2 separate regions of the Homo sapiens genome follow, and region 2 is linked to region 1. The links come from fine-mapping of genetic effects on gene expression. Tissue or cell type: whole blood. Region 1 holds a variant in brackets; the other region holds the start of a gene. All regions are shown on one strand. Distances are between the middles of the regions.

Region 1 (8,173 bases):
AATGATCACTCAAATCCGAGTCAATCCCTCTATTTAAAAAAAGCTCACACATAGTCTCCCCTCCCTTCCCCAGTCCTCTTGGCGACAGGGCGGTCACAGGACATATGTGTTCTTCACCAGCTGCTCCTTGTCATCTCCGGAGCTCCAGACGGTGCGCAGGGCACGCTCCTGGTTCCTCCGTGCCACCCGGATCAGGTAGACCATGGAGGCTCCCAGGAAGAGGATCAACACCATCACGAACAGCCCCGCCAGAACCACCACTGAGGACGAGAGAGGGGCCTCAGGACGGGCCAGGCAAGGGGAGTTGCAGCCAGAGTGGCGCTCACCAAGGGCCTGGGGAATCCAGGTGGGCTCAGCCTGAGGACCAAATGCCCCTCCCCAACCCAGACAGGGTCCAGAACTGCAGCTGGAGAGGACACAGCCTGCCAGAGATGCCACCAAGGAGAGTCCCCCAAAAAAGGAGGCGCCATGCTATGTGCGTGCCAGCAGAGTGGCCGTGTCGCCAGCAGAGTAGTCATCTGTGTTCCTTCTTTTTGAACTAAAAACCCAACTCTCAGGGCAACCTGCACAGGAGCCCCAGGCCGAGAGATGCACAAGGGTGTAAAAAACACTTAGCACCGGTGTGTACACATGAAACCTTAGGGGCTTTGTGCACACACACGCTGACCGGCAATAGAGAAAGACGTGGCCCTGCAGGGGCTGGGAGGGCTGAGAGCTACTGCGGGATGAAGTCAGGGTGGAAGCGAGGGGGTACTCAGAGCTGTGCCAGCAAATTTAATAGTGTCTGCCCCACTGCAGTCTCGCTGGTCAGCTCAGATGCTTTTCTTCAGGAGGGGATCCGGCTAAGGAGTGTGACCTGTGGCAGCCTCCCCCATGTGGCTGTGGAGCTGCAGAGTTGGCCTTTTTGGGGCCACCCTCCAGACCCAGACTGCTTGCTTCCCAGCCCCGTGCCTGGCAAACCAGGCTTCACTGCTAGAACAGGACAGACTCGCAGGCCAGGTCCTGGCTCCTTCACCGGGAAACAGGTGGAGAAAGAGGCCAGACTGGCATGGCAGGTCTTTTGTGCCAACATTATCACCTGCAACTCAAGCTCAGAAACACAGGCCAGAGGCCTGGCCTCCCGCTCAGACCAGACTGTGTTGGGAAACACCCTGGCCCGTGGTCCTCCGTCCTGTCACCCGTGACCAACTCTTATGCCCCACATAGCAGCGCTCCCTCCACACCTCAGGCCAGCCTCAGGCCCGTGTGCAGCAGTCCTCAAATGCTCAACAGGAAGACCTCATCCCCAGTCACCCACGCCGCCTGGGCAGGGCCTGCCTTGTGACTGACTCACTCCAGCCCCAACTGTGTACACTGAACGGTGGGACAAACCACCACCTCGCCATTCTCACGCAGAAACATGACTTTCTGCCAAGATGATGTTCACAGTGAAGGATAATGTAAACCACAGCTGGGCAGGGCTGAGCTCAGTCAAGGAAGGGAGGAGGCAGGCTGATGGCAGGAGGAGGGTAAGGGGCCACTTACCCTTTGAGCCAAGGGGCAGGGGAGGATTCTCCTGCTGGCCTGGAAGAGAACACACAGCCTGAGGTCAGCTCACAGCCCCCATTCCACAGAGCTGCCGCAGGGGATCCCCTCAGCCAGGGCCTCCATGGGGAGCTCTTTCTGAGGGGCTTTCTTCCAGCTTTTCTGGGGCTTAGAGGCCTTGCTGCCCTGGTGGGCCCAAGAACAGCATTTCCAAGGCCTTCATATTTTAGGGATGGGGAGATGGACCGGGGTCCTCAAGGGCAGGGCTTCCTGGGCTGAGGGGCTGCAGACTTACGGAAGCAGCGGAGCATGCAGGCCTCCTCAGAGCGGTAGCTGTTCTTATTGCCCCGGCAGCCTCCATAGATGAAGTTATTGCAGGAGTTCCTCTCCACGTCAAAGTACCAGCGTGGGAAGGATGCACGGCAAGGCCCAGTGACTGCGTTGGCGGTGCAGTATTCTAGGAGTAAGACAGCCCAGGGAATACAAATTAGTAGGGCCCGCAAGGAGGGGAAGCAAGCCAGAAAGTGCCTGAGGAGGCTTGCGGCTCCAGCAGACGGAGAAACATCTCTCTGGTAAAGAAGCCTGTAAATTACACCCAAGACCAGTGCAGCGGCTCTGACGCGCTGCTCCTTGGGTCCAGGTGACGGCTTCGGAGCTTTGAAGGCTGCTCTCTGCCAAGCCCTGTTCTAGGCCTTTTACATGCAGTGGCTGAGTCTCTATGAGACCTATCTGGGACCCTTCATTTTATACATGGGAACTCTGAGGCGGGGCAACAGTCACTTGCCCACAGCCAAGCCGCTGGCGAGAGGTTCAGGGACAATGTAAATTGCAGAGCCACGTGCCAGGCTACGCCTCTAACGCACATCTCCACAGGCGCAGCCTCCTTCCCACTGCTGGCGGCATCCACGTGGGGCCTGTCACCTTGACCCCAACCTCAGGGGGCTGCCACCACCTGGGGAGGGGAGAGCCCTGCTCTACAACTTCCTCAGTGAAAATCCGCAAGTGTCTCTCAATACCCAACTAAGAATACATGTTTTGCCCCATATATAAGTTTCTTCGGAGTTTTTTTTTTTTTTTTTTTTTTTTTTTTTGAGACAGAGTCTCACTCTGTTGCCCAGGCTGGAGTGCAGTGGCGCAATCTTGGCTCATTGCACCCTCCGCCTCCCAGGCTTTGAGCAATTCTCCTGCCTCAGTCTCCTGAGTAGCTGGGACTACAGGTGCATGCCACTACGTCCAGCTAATTTTTCGTATTTTTAGTAGAGACAGGGTTTCACCATGTTAGGATGGTCTTGATATCCTGACCTCGTGATCCGCCCACCTCAGCCTCCCAAAGCGCTGGGATTACAGGTGTGAGCCACCGCACCTGGCCTCTTTGGAGTTTTACCTTCATAGTTGAACATATCGCTGGAGTGGTCTTCAGAATCCTGCCTTCTGGGAGCTGAAACACAAACATCTGTGTTAGGGAGGCTGGGCCGGACACAGGACACAGGCCTAGCTGGGTCTGGGTCTGGAAGGGCCCACTGAGGAGTGTGGACACGCCTTTAAGAAGGGGTGTGTAGCCCCTTCCATGGCCGGCTCTGCCACGTCACCCCAGCCCTAATGGGCTCTACGCACACACTGAGAGTGCTGGATGTGGTGGCCCTGCCGCCACCTCAGGGTTCCTATAGAAACCAAGCCTGCCACAGCTCCTAATATTATAGGGAACACGGTCTTGTTCACACTTTCTAATACAGTGAGGGGGACATGTTCCTCTCCAACAAGATGGAAACCAGAGCTGGTGTGTGGGGGGGCTAGCAGAGGATAAACAGGGAGCCAGGCAGAGCAAAGCCAGGACAGGCACAGGACTCCAGGCCTAGCAAAGCTGGAAAGTGACCACCCTAACGCCCCAGCACTCTGCAAGCCAGCCGGCCCAACAGCTGCTGAGCTACAGTGCACTCGGTGGGTAGCAGCTGCCGGGGGAGTCCCATCCTCCAGCAGGGGTGCGGTGCAGTACCCCCTCCACAGCAGCCTCCCAGAGTCCATGGCCTGAGGTCTGCCCCGAGGGTGCATTTGCTACCTGGTAGTGCATCGGGACCACTCACCCCAGGCGCCCGATGCAGAGTCCTTAAACCATAAAGGAGGAATGGGGCAGCAGCCGCCAGCACTACAAAGCAAGCTAACACACATCTTGAGATCACAAGCTGCAGTGGCGGGGAGGCGGGGGTGGCAGAGGACAGAGGATGCCCACGGGGCAGGGGACAGCGATGGCAACAGGGAGCAAAGGAAGCAGAGGAGACAGAACAGGCAGACAGGAGGGTGGGTGGGGAGTGGGGTCAGCAGAGCAGCTGGAGGCCCGCACAGCAAGGAGGGGCCTGAGCCTCATGGGCAGCAGCCACCTCCATCCCATCCTCCAGGAGGAGATGGGGGCCAGCCAGGAAGTGCTGCAGGATCCCCGGCCCCTGTGTCAGCTGGACAGTATAAACTCCCCCATAAGGATGCTGGAGCCAGAAGCCGGCAGCCCAGGCAGAGCCCCCGGTTTGCCAATTTTGAGTAAACAGAACCATGAGAGGGAAGCCTGTGACAGTTCCCAAATGACAAGTGTCCTTTCACAATGACCCATCCGGTGGCCTCACTCCATCGCGGGTCTCTTTAAGAACCTACCACTTGGGACAGAGGAATCCGCTGCATTCCTGCTGGTGGCCAGGTCACCCGTGGCATTCTCTGCAAGGGGACAAAGAAACAGCACAGTGAAAGAGCTTTCGAGAGACTGCCAGGGACAAAGAATGAGCTGGCCCTGTGCGCCTCTCACCACAGCATCCACTTCTCCTTTACATGGGACCTTCAATGTGCATGCCAGACCACAACTTGGAAATAAGGAACCAAGATTGCCTCCCGAAGAGGAAACTTAAGATTAACTTGCAGGGAATCAGAGCAGAGATGTGCAAAGTGACCTTAAAAAGACAGTGACTTGGCCGGGTGTGGTGGCTCATGGCTGTAATTCCAGTACTTTGGGAGGCCAAGGCAGGTGGATCACCTGAGGTCAGGAGTTTGAGACCAGCCTGGCCAACATGGCAAAACCTATTAAAAATACAAAAGTTAGGGCCGGGTGCGGTGGCTTACGCCTGTAATCCCAGCACTTTGGGAGGCCAGGGTGGGCAGATCGCGAGGTCAGGGATCGAGACCATCCTGGCCGACACTGCGAAAACCCATCTCTACTAAAAATACAAAAAATTAGCCGGGTGTGGTGGCACGCGCCTGTA[G/A]TCCCAGCTACTCCGGAGGCTGAGGCAGGAGAATTGCTTGAACTCGGGAGGCGGAGGTTGCAGTGAGCCGAAATCGCACCACTGCACTCAGCCTGGGCAACAGAGTGAGACTCCGTCTCAAAAAACAAACAAAAAAACCCAAAAAGTTAGCCAGGCGTGATGGCAGATGCCTGTAATCCCAGCTACTCGGGTGGCTGAGGCAGGAGAATCGCCTGAACCTGGGAGGCAGAGGTTGTAGTGAGCCGAGATCACACCATTGACCATTGCACTCCAACCTGGGCAACAAGAGTGAAACTCCGTCTCAAAGAAAGAAACAAACAATCAAAACACAGTGACTTCCAGGGCCAAATAATTGCTTAACTGTATCAACTCATCTAACTAATTCAACTGTAATACCAGTGCTTACACTGGGTGAAGGGTGGGGGGCATCACTTGAGGCCAGGAGTTTGAGACCAGCTTGGGCAACATAAAAAGACCTAATCTCTTTGGGGGGAGAAAAACAAAACAAAACACGACACTTTTTTTAAAGGTTAACATGACAAATTTTTCGTTTTGAAACGGAGTCTCGCTCTGTCGCCCAGGCTGGAGTGCTCTGGCGCGATCTCAGCTCACTGCAAGCTCCACCTCCCGGGTTCACACCATTCTCCTGCCTCAGCCTCTGGAGTAGCTGGGACCACAGGCGCCCGCCACCAGGCCCGGCTAATTTTTTTTTGTATTTTGAGTAGAGACGGAGTTTCACCGTGTTAGCCAGGATGGTCTCGATCTCCTGACCTCTTGGTCTGCCCACCTCGGCCTCCCAAAGTGCTGGATTACAGGCGTGAGCCGCCGCACCCGGCCCACATGATACATTTTACACAGCGCTTATCTCCCACACCTCGTCCAAGATGGAGGGAACCCTGGCTCCTCCGCATCCTCGGGCCTGGCCTAGCCTGATGCTATTAAACGGTCACCTTGCAAACCAGCTCCCCGCGTTCTGCCTCTCTCTTCATCAAGCAGTCTTCTGGCAACTGGACTAGAGACTTGCCTATGCGGACTAAAGGCGTGGGCCCGGGGACACGAGTGCCTGCTCCCCGGGGCGGTCCTGGTTCTCATGATGAATTAATACACTGGCAGTCTCATTCTCACTTGCCTTCCCACAGAGCCTGCCTGCCTGGGAGAGAATATGCCGGCAAAGGACCCCAGGCACTAGCAGCCCTGGCAGTGTTTAGCTCTTTACAGACTCACATGGGAGCGCCTCGAGAGACACACATTGCAGCCAGTCAGATGCCAATATGTGCTTTCTGGACCTGCAAGGCGGGGCCGGACTCTAGGGAGACAGCTAACCTGCCTGCTCCCAGGAACACACAGCCACTCATGTCCCCTGGCTATGTTCACTGTCTACTGCCTGAGTTCTCAACACTTCAGCTCCCTTCCTGAGGAGGTAACAAACAGCCAGGATGGACAGATACATTTGCTAAAGGCAACTCTTGACTGGGATAGCTCAGAAAAGGTAGCAAAAGATAGTTCTCCCAAGTCCTCCTTCATAATGAATCACAGCTGACGATAGAAATACAGTAACTGGGTCAACGGTGGCTCACAGAGACAACACCAAGTCATCAAAAAAACATGTTAGGGGGAGTGCCGCTGAAAATATTTTTATTTATTTTTTACTTAAAGGCCAGTGTAATTGTTTGTTTTTTCAGTTAAAGTGAAATGTTTAGCTGGGCACAGTGGCTCACGCCTGTAATCCTAGCACTTTGGGAGGCAGGCAGATTGCTTGAGCTCAAGCGTTTGAGACCAGCCTGGGTAACATGGTGAAACTCCATCTTCACCAAATACACAAAAATTAGCCAGGTGTGGAGGTGCACGCCTGTAGTCCCAGCTACTTGAGAGGCTGAGGCACGAGAATCACTTGAACCCAGGAGGTGGAGGTTGCAGTGAGCCAAGATCACATCACTGCACTCCAGCCTGGTAGGCGACTAAGCGAGAAAAAAAGAAAAAAGTGAAAATCTTTAACATAGGATTTGGATGGCCAAACCCTCGGGTCTCTGGAACACTCGGGATGGAGCAGCCCCAAAGGGCCAATGTCTCATCACCACCAGCTCTCAGGAAGTCCTTCTCACTCAGCTAAGAGCCAGGGCACGCTGCTGGGAGGTTTAGGTTTTAATTTAAACTGTGAGGTTATCAGGGTCAAAATTACCTTGATTCCACAGAACTCCTCGCAGGTGAGGGCCGCAAAGAGGATGGATTCCAGGACGTATGTTTGTTTTAACTTGATCGGTAACTTGGCTGGGTGAGCTATTCAAGTCACTTGTCCCACAATTAAAAATAACCCAAATAGCGGCCAGGTGCGGTGGCTTACACCTGTAATCCCAGCACTTTGCGAGGTTAAGGCAGGCAGATCACCTGAGGCCAGAAGTTCAAGACCAGCTTGGCCAACATAGCGAAACCCCATCTCTACTAAAAATACAAAAATTAGCCAGGCGTAGTGGTGGACACCTGGAATCCCAGCTACTCAGGAGGCTGAGGTTGCAGTGAACCGAGATTGCTCTACTGCACTCCAACTTGGGCGACAGAGCAAGACTCTGTCTCAAAATAAAATAAAATAACCCAAATACCCAGGGAACAAGAGGGGCAGCCCTGTCGGAGTGGATCAAAAAGCCTCTGCTCAAGAAGGCAAGGCTACTTCCTCTTTGGTCTGCTCTGAAACTTGCACTTAGTAAAGTGGGAGAAAGGAAGCTGGGTCACGCTGGCCCCAGCTCTGCCCTGTTGTTTTGCTCCCTTTCTGGGAAGAGGAGGAGTGAGGGTCTGCTGTGAAACCACTGTACGGCCACCAGGACATTCACACGGTGCCTGTTTCTTCTGCTTTTTAAAACGTCACCCAGATTCCACTGTCAAGAACTAATAAAGAGAGGAAAGTATCCACATTCCAGTTAATAAATTGTCTCTAAAGAGCAAAATCTGGCTGGGCACAGTGGCTCACGCCTGTAATCTCAGCCCTTTGGAAGGCCCAGGTGGGAGGATCACTTGAGGCCAAGAGTCCAAGACCAGCCTGGGTAACATAGGGAGACCCCCGCCTCTATAAAAAATTTCAAAATGAGCAAGGTGTGGTGGCATGTGCCTGTAGTCCCAACTACTCAGGAGGCTGAGGTGGGAGGTTCTGCTTGAGCCCAGGAGGTGGAGGCTGCAGTGAGACCCTGTCTAAAAAAAAAGCAGGGGCTGGGCGCAGTGGCTCATGCCTGTAATCCCAGCACTTTGGGAGGCTGAGGCAGGCAGATCACAAGATCAGGAGATCGAGACCATCCTGGCTAACAAGGTGAAACCATGTCTCTACTAAAAACACAAAAAATTAGTTGGGCGTGATGGTGGGTGCCCGTAGTCCCAGCTACTCAGGAGGCTGAAGCAGGAGAATGGCGTGAACCCGGGAGGCG
Region 2 (8,173 bases), 24 kb after region 1:
CAACCCAGACAACTACTTCTTCCTTCCCAACTTTAGCTCCGGGCCTGCCACCTCTCCCGCTGCTCTTATGATCATTCTTGGAGATTTCTATATCCAGGTAGATGGTCCTCTGACCTCTAGGTCCCAAGACCTCCACCTGATCTCCTCCCACCCTCGCCCCCCCGCTTCCTCTCAGGGTCACACCTAGACCTGTCTCAGTAACTGCCACCTCTTCAGAACCTCCCTCTCATGCATCTCACTCACTACCCACTGCATCCTATCTGTCTGGTTCATTCCCTTCAGAACCTCAACTCCAACAATCTGCTGGCCCTACCATCTACCTCGGCCCTCCGCCCCCTCATGTTTTCATACAGAATAAATTCCTTGACCAACCCCCATCCTCCCTCCCTCACACATTCTCTGTTCACTCCTCCCTCACCACCACACTCATCCAGCAGCACCTGAGCCACTGCATGGAGCTTCAGCAACACCACACTCCCAGTGGATGACTCGCTTCCGGAGAAAACAGAAGCAATCAGGAAGGAGCGAGGAAAAAAAAGTCAAAACTGCCTTCTGCCTCCGATTAAGCTGTTCAAGCTTTCAAACAAACAGAACTTACGATGAGTGAGGGCATGAGTTCACCCAGTCAGACACTAGTACTTCTGAAAGGTCAGTAGGTCCAGTCGGCAGCAGCAGTCAGGTAGGCCACTCTGAACAGAGAAGGCCTCTGCAGTGAGACCTGGCTTTGTCAATTACTACTACCGAGTGACCTCGGGCAAGGCAAGTAACTTCACCACCGCACCCGGCTGTTTCAAAGGTTAAATGGCACATCCCAGCTCAGAGTAAGCACCAGAGGTAGCAAGAGGCCATGTCCCAGCTCAGAGTAAGCACCAGAGGTAGCAAGAGGCCAGGTAACTGGGAGGTACATCCTAACGTAATTACTTAAACTGAAAAAGTCCAGCAGAGCTGCCAAATTCTGGTTCGAATTGCAAGAATGATCAACGTCTGCATTCCTGACTCCCAGTCACCTACAGCTGAGCCTCTCCCCACCAATTCACTTTTTTCTCCTGCCTAGGGCACAGAGAAATTAACCAGTCCCCAGAAGTTACCACAGGTGATGACTTGGTACACACCTAGCCTGCTCTTTTTTTTTTTTTTGAGACTGAGTCTTGCTGTGTCGCCCAGGCTGCTGTGCAGTGGCTTGATCTCAGCTCACTACAGCCTCCGCCTCTGGGCTTCAAGCGATTCTCCTGCCTCAGCCTCCCGAGTAGCCGGGACTACAGGTGTGCACCACCATGCCCAGCTAATTTTTGTATTTTTGGTAGAGACGGGGTTTCATCATGTTGCCTAGGGTGGTGTTGAACTCCTGGCCTCCAGTGATCTGCCCGCCTTGGCCTCCCAAAGTTCTAGGATTACAGGCATGAGCCACATCACCCGGCCTTCTTTTTTTTTTTTTGAGATGGGAGTTTCACTCTTGTTGCCCAAGCTGGAATGCAGTGGCGCGATCTTGGCTCACTGCAACATCCGCCTCCCGGGTTCAAGCACCAGCACCTGTCTATAAAGCCCTAGGCCATCTGGCTGCAGCCAACCTCTCCCACCTCCCATCCTCCTCCAGTCCTCCCCTCCTTCACGCCTGCTCCAGCCAGGCTGGCTCTGTCTTTTCCCTGAACCCAACCAAGCTTGTTCCAGCTTCAAGGCCTTTGTACTCTATTGCCTGCAACTGGACACTGGTCCCCCAGGTCTCCGTGTGGCTACTGCCTCATTCTTCATGTTAGAGCTCAGATGTCACCCTCCTCACGGAGACGTCCCCCGACCACCTGAGCTAAAGCCGCCCCCAACATCTTACGTCACCCTGTTGGTGTACTTCACCTGGTTCATTTAATTCTCAGTAACTTAATCTCATGGCAAGTGCTTTTTAAACCTTCACTAGCTCTGCCTCTCCCACTGGAATATTAGCTCTGTGAATGCAGGAACCCAGCTAGTCTGAGTTAACTGTTATAACCAGCGCCAGTGCCTGACACGTAGCAGGGCCTCAGTAAGTTTTGCTGAATCAATGAATTCTTGCTTTCAAGAGAGCTCTTTTCAAAACACGCTGGTGCTTGTCTGAAGCAGTTAAGGTTATAACAACACTTGTTCAAAGAGACCTTTCAGACCACACTTCCTTAAGAGTGTAGAAGTTTAAATCACCTTATTCACCACCGACTTCTAAGGGCCAATCCAAAGACCCCAACACCAGCTGCTCAACGCCAATACTCTCTCGAGCCTTAGCAGAGCTTCCTCTTCCCCAAAGCTTGTTTCCTTTCTTGCTCCCTCCTTCTCGGGCACCTACTTTACTGCAACTCAACTACAAAAACTTCAGGGGAGGCTCTTGTCCAATCTCCAAAGAGGCAGGGGTGAGATGGGCTTCTTCCGAGTCTAAAACGGCCACCAGGTCACCCAACCCAACCCCCACCATCTCACAGGCCTGGCCTCTCCCTGAGCTTTGGCCATGGAACTTTCCACCGCCAGGAGAAGGCTGGTCTTCAATTCGGCTCCTCACCCCGTTCTTGCCACAGGAAGGGGCAGTGCCACGCCTTCTTGGTCAATACCCCTTGACTCTTCCTCCACCCGAAGGAAACTCTCCTAACCCTCGCTCCTCCGCCCGTCTTCGCTGTCGAAGGCTCCCAAACCTCATTTCAAGGCTCAATCCTCCAGGGCTGGTTCCACCACACCCGCTGAACGCCATCAAGTAGCCCCCAGTTTCCTCCCCCGCCAGTTCTCCCTGCTCAGACCCCCGTTGACCCCCGAGCCTCTGCCCCCTGCGCCCCGCCTCCAGCCTACCCGCCCGGCCCTCACCGTGGATGCTGCGTTCTCGGTCGGCCGCCAGGACCCCAGAGAGGAGCAGCGATCCCAGCAGGGCGAGAAACGCCCGGCTCCGCCTCAGCCCGCACAGCTGCGCCATGGCCAGCTCAGCCGAGACGCGCAGGCGACGCCACCAGCCGTTGGGGTCTCGCGATCAGGTGCGGGAAGCCCCTCAACGCGCACGCGCAATGGAGCGCCTCGCGTTCAGGTGCCGACGCTCCGGGAGGGTCCGCCAGGTGCCAAAGCCCCCGGAAGTCGCCTTTCCGGACCTTCAGTGTGGGGACGCCCGGCCTTCTCGGCGCGCGATGCCTGGGTCTGCTCCTCACTCGCGCCCTCGCCGCCTGCGACACTCAACGGCCCTCAGCGCGTTCAGAGCCGCGCTACACCTCCCAACGCGCGGAGGTCGCCAGAGCCAATGGCGAACGCCTATTGGAAGCGGCTCCCGAAGGTGGCCGGGCAGGCAGGGGGCGGGGCGCACCTGGCTAGGCAGGGCGAGCTGGGCGCAGGCGCAAAGGGCAGGCACCTGCGCGGCCGCTCCCCGGCCCTGGGCGCACCTGGGCCCGCCCCTGGTGCCGGGGAAGAGGCGGGGCTTGCGCGGGCCTCGCCCCCAACAGAACCTGGCGGGGCGGGGCGGGGCGTCTGCCCGCTGAGCACCTGCCACCCTTCCCTTGGGCTTGGTGACGACGTCGGAGGAGGGCCTTCGCTCTAGGACTGGCCTCAGGGTGGGAGGAGGGGGCGGCAGACACGCGTTTCTTGGAAGCCTGTGGTTTTCTGCCCGCCTCGCCGCAGCTTTCCTGTGAATTCCTTCCTGAATTTCAAAGTTCACTGGGCTCATGCTCCAGGGCTTAATGCTGGGGACCCAGCGGTGGCCATGCCAGACTGGTCCCTGAGTCACCAAACAGGAACGGCCCAGAGTAGTGATAGCGGAAGCTTAGCACAAAGTGATGAAAGCTGTGATGGGGAAGGCCAAGCTTAGGGATCAGAGGCTGGGTCGCTAGAAAACCAGGGCATGATGGGAGCCCAGACAGCTTTCCCATCCAGCCTGAGAGAGGGCCAAGGAGGGCTTCCTGGAGGAGGTGATAGGCCCATGCAAAAACAGCCCCGAGCCCTGGCTCCAAGGTTCTCAGGACAGATATGGAGACAAATACTTAGCACAGGCAGCATCAGAATTGAGAGGAAGGAAGCCCCTGGGGAAACCCAGAGAAGACACCTGACCAAGCCTGGGAGTCAAAGAGGGCTTCCTGGAAGAGGAGTTACGTGAACAGACTCTAGAAAGGGGAATGGAGTGGGGCAGGCACACGAGTAGAGGATAGCCAACAAGGTAATCAACATAAATGCATTATTATTGAAAACACTTTTAGATTATTTCTTTTTTTTTTTTTTTTTGAGATGGAAGTTTTGCTCTTGTTGCCCAGGCTGGAGTGCAATGGAGTGATCTTGGCTCACTGCAGCCTTGACCTCCTGGGCTCAAGGGATCCTCCCACCTCAGCCTCCCAAGTAGCTGGGACTACAGATGTGAGCCACCACATCCAGCTAATTTTTAAATTTTTTGTGGAGACAGGGGACTTGCTATGTTGCCCAGGCTGGTCTCAAACTCCTGGCTTCAAGGGATCCTCCTGTCTCATCCTTCCAAAAGTGTTGTATTACAGGCGTGAACCACCACACCTGGCCTGAAAACACTTTGACAGTGCTATACAGAAAAGGAATCAGGGGCTGGGATGGAAAATAACAAGAGATCTTTTGAATGGGGTGGCGGAGGAAGGGCTTTGTGAGGGGTGGCTTTGATAATGAACTCTGAAGGATGATAAAGGCCAAGGGACAAACATTCCAAGAATCAGGAATGGCACATGCGGAGGCCTTCAGGCAGGAAAGAGAATAGTGTGTTCAGGAGCCAGGGCCACTCCCACTCTTCAGCCTCCCTCCTAGCATAATAATACATGAAAAGCCGTAACTGAGTTATCAAAATGGTATTTACCTTAAACAATGGAAGTCTAACCTTGCAATGAGATCATGGGACTCAAGGTGGAATCTGAATGTGAGGCCAAAGGTCTCCCCCAGCACTTGAATCTCCCACTGCCACTCAGGCCTACTAAACCTAGGCTTGAGCATGAAAACAGAGAAGTATGTGCTGAGCCGTCAAGGCTTGGAAGAAGGTATAGGCCTCTTCTTTCTTTATTTTATTTTATTTTGAGACAGAGTTTCACCTGTTGCCCAGGCTGGAGTGCAATGCTGTGATCTCAGCTCACTGCAACCTCCACCTCCTGGATTCAAGCAATTCTCCTGCCTCAGCCTCCTGAGTAGCTGGGATTACAGGCACCACCCGCCACCACGCCCAGCTAATTTTTGTATTTTTTGTAGAGATGGAGTTTCACCATGTTGGCCAGGCTGGTCTCGAACTTCTGACCTCACGATCCGCCCACCTTGACCTCCCAAAGTGCTGGGATTACAGGCGTGAGCCACTGCATCTGTCCAGTTTTGAACTTTAAACACAAAAACTCAAAAGGAGGGCTGAGCGCAGTGGCTCATGCCTGTAATCCCAGCACTTTGGGAGGCCAAGGCGGGTGGATCACGAGGTCAGCAGATCAAGACCATCTTGGCTAACACGGTGAAAAAATCAAAAAGATTAGCCGGGCGTGGTGGCGGGAGCATGTAGTCCCAGCTACTCGGGAGGCTGAGGCAGGAGAATCTCTTGAACCCGGCAGGCGGGGTTTGCAGTGAGCCAATATTGTGCCACTGTACTCCAGCCTGAGCAACAGCGCGAGAGTCGTTCTCAAAAAAAAAAAAAAAAAAAAGAGGCCGGGCTCACACGCCTGTAATCCCCAGCACTTTGGGAGGCCTGGGCATCTCCATATCTGTCCTGAGAAACATTCCAAGCATCAACATTCCTGATGCTTGGAATGTTTGTCCCTTGGCCTTTATCATCCTTCAGAGTTCATTAAAAAGAGGTGGCTCACGCCTGTAATCCCCAGCACTTTGGGAGGCCGAGGTGGGCGGATCACGAGGTCAGGAATTTGAGACCAGCCTGGCCAACATAGTGAAACCCTGTCTCTACTAGAAATACAAAAATTAGCCGGGCGTGGTGGCGCGCGCCTGTAGTCCCAGCCACTGGAGAGGCTGAGGCAGGAGAATCGCTTGAACCCGGGAGGTGGAGGCTGCGGCGAGCCGAGATCGCCCCACTGCACACCAGCCCGGGCGACAGTGTGAGACTTCGTCTCAAAAAAAAAAAAAAAAAAAAGAAGGGCCGGGTGCGGTGGCTTATGCCTGTAATCTCAGCATTTTAGAAGGCTGAGGTGGGCGGATCACGAGGTCAGCAGATGGAGACCATCTGGGCTAACACGGTGAAACCCCGTCTCTACTGAAAAAAAGTACAAAAGACTAGCCGGGCGTGGTGGTGGGCGCATGTAGTCCCAGCTACTTGGGAGGCTGAGGCAGGAGAATCGCTTGAACCTGGGAGGTGGAGTTTGCAGTGAGCCGACATTGCGCCACTGCACTCCAGCCTGAGCGACGGCGCGAGACTCGTTCTCAAAAAAAAAAAAAAAAAAAAAAAAAAAGAGGCCGGGCGCGGTGGCGGGCGCCTGTAGTCCCAGCTACTCGGGAGGCTGAGGCAGGAGAATAGCTTGAATCCGGGAGGCGGAGGTTGCAGTGAGCTGAGACTGCACCACTGCCCTCCAGCCTGGGTGACAGAGCGAGACTCTGTCTCAAAAAAAAAAAAAAAAAAAAAAAAAAAAACACCAAAAAAAAAACCTTGACAGTAGGCCAGGCGTGGTTGGCTCACACCTGTAATCTCAGCACTTTGGGAGGCCGAGGCGAGCGGATCACCTGAGGTCGGGAGTTCAAGACCATCCTGACCAACATGGAGAAATCCTGTCTGCTAAAAATACAAAATTAGTCGGGCGTGGTGGCGGATGCCTGTAATCCGCGCTACTCAGGAGGCTGAGGCAGGAGAATCGCTTGAACCTGGGAGGTGGAGGTTGCAGTGAGCTGAGATAGTGCCATTGTACTCCAGCCTGGGCAACAAGAGCGAAACTCCGTCTCAAAAAATGAAACAAAAACAAAACAAAAAAAAAACCGACAGTAATTGCATCAATTGTTTTTTTCCCCCTTTTTTATATTGCATCAATTGTTTAGAAAGCAGACCACCAAAAGGTTTTTGTTTCTGTTTCTTCCCTGGGGAGGACTATTTTATCATTGACACTGTTTAGAAATGTCACTGCAAAGTAAAATAAAAATTAGACCAACTTTTGGTCAGTTTTTTTGAAATGGAGTCTCACTCTGTCTGTCGCCTAGGCTGCAGTGCAATGGCACGATCTTGGCTCATCGCAACCTCCACCTCCCGGGTTCAAGCGATTCTCCTGCCTCAGTCTCCCAAGTAGCTGGGATTACAGGCTTGTACCACCACACCCGGCTAATTTTTGTATTTTTATGGAGATGGGGTTTCACCATGTTGGCCAGGCAGGTCTTGAACTCCTGACCTCAGGTGATCTGCCTGCCTTGGCCTCCCAAAGTGCTGGGATTACAGGCATGAGCCACCATGCCCGGCCTTGGTCAGCTTTTTATTTTTAAATTCTCTACAGACAGTGCACCCTCTTTTTGCCTGTACCCAAAGTGGACCAGTCCTGTCCCCCTGCCTTTAGTATGCTACTAGTTGGGAAACAGACAATAATTTTTTTTTTCTGTCACTGCACAGAACAGAAAATATGACATTTTTCTTTTTGAGACAGGGTCTCACTCCATCACCCAGGCTGGAGTGCAGTGGTGCAATCACAGTTCACTGCGTCCTCCATCTCCTGGACTCAAGTGATCCTCCCAACTCAGCCTCCAGAGTAACTGGGACTACAAGCATGTACTATTGCACCTGGCTTTTTTTTTTTTTTTTTTTTTTTGTAGCGACAGGGTCTCACTATGTTGCCCAAGCTGATCTTGAACTCCTGGATGTAATTGCTCCTCCTGCCTCAGCATCCTATAGTGCTGAGATTACAGGTGTGAGCCACCACGCCTGGCATGGACAATACATTAAATGAGTACATTATATATAATGTTAGAGGCCAGGCATGGTGGCTCATGCCTGTAATTCCAGCACTTTGGGAGGTCAAGACGGGCAGATCGTCTGAGGTCAGGAGTTCGAGACCAGCCTGACCAACATGGTGAAACCCCATCTCTACTGAAAATATAAAAAGTAAGCGGACACAGTGGTGTATAACTGTAGTCCCAGCTACTCAGGAGGCTGAAGCAGGAGAATCTCTTGAACCCAGGAGGCAGAGGTTGCAGTGAGCCATGATCACAATACTATACTCCAGCCTGAGGTGACTCCAACTCAAAAAAAAAAAAAAAAAAAAAAAAAAAAAAAAAAAAA

What was found. PIP is the estimated chance that this variant, and not a neighbour inherited with it, causes the effect.
Region 2: it holds the start of SPINT2, and the variant in region 1 is fine-mapped to the expression of SPINT2 in whole blood (TOPMed, PIP above 0.99).

The regions. Positions count from the first base shown.
Region 1 is chr19:38,283,927-38,292,099 of GRCh38, reverse strand. SPINT2 (serine peptidase inhibitor, Kunitz type 2) reads right to left here. Exons shown (of 7, transcript NM_021102.4): 3 at 4,165-4,224; 4 at 2,909-2,962; 5 at 1,820-1,981; 6 at 1,525-1,563; 7 at 1-260. The coding sequence ends at 94. Among named protein-coding and RNA genes, the nearest start is that of C19orf33, 16 kb to the left of the region's middle. The variant G/A (reference allele first, on the strand shown) is at 4,764.
Region 2 is chr19:38,259,640-38,267,812 of GRCh38, reverse strand. SPINT2 (serine peptidase inhibitor, Kunitz type 2) reads right to left here and starts at 3,240. Exons shown (of 7, transcript NM_021102.4): 1 at 2,815-3,240. The coding sequence starts at 2,920. RefSeq lists a silencer at 3,216-3,535 and enhancers at 3,692-4,609, 4,750-5,686, 5,687-6,624.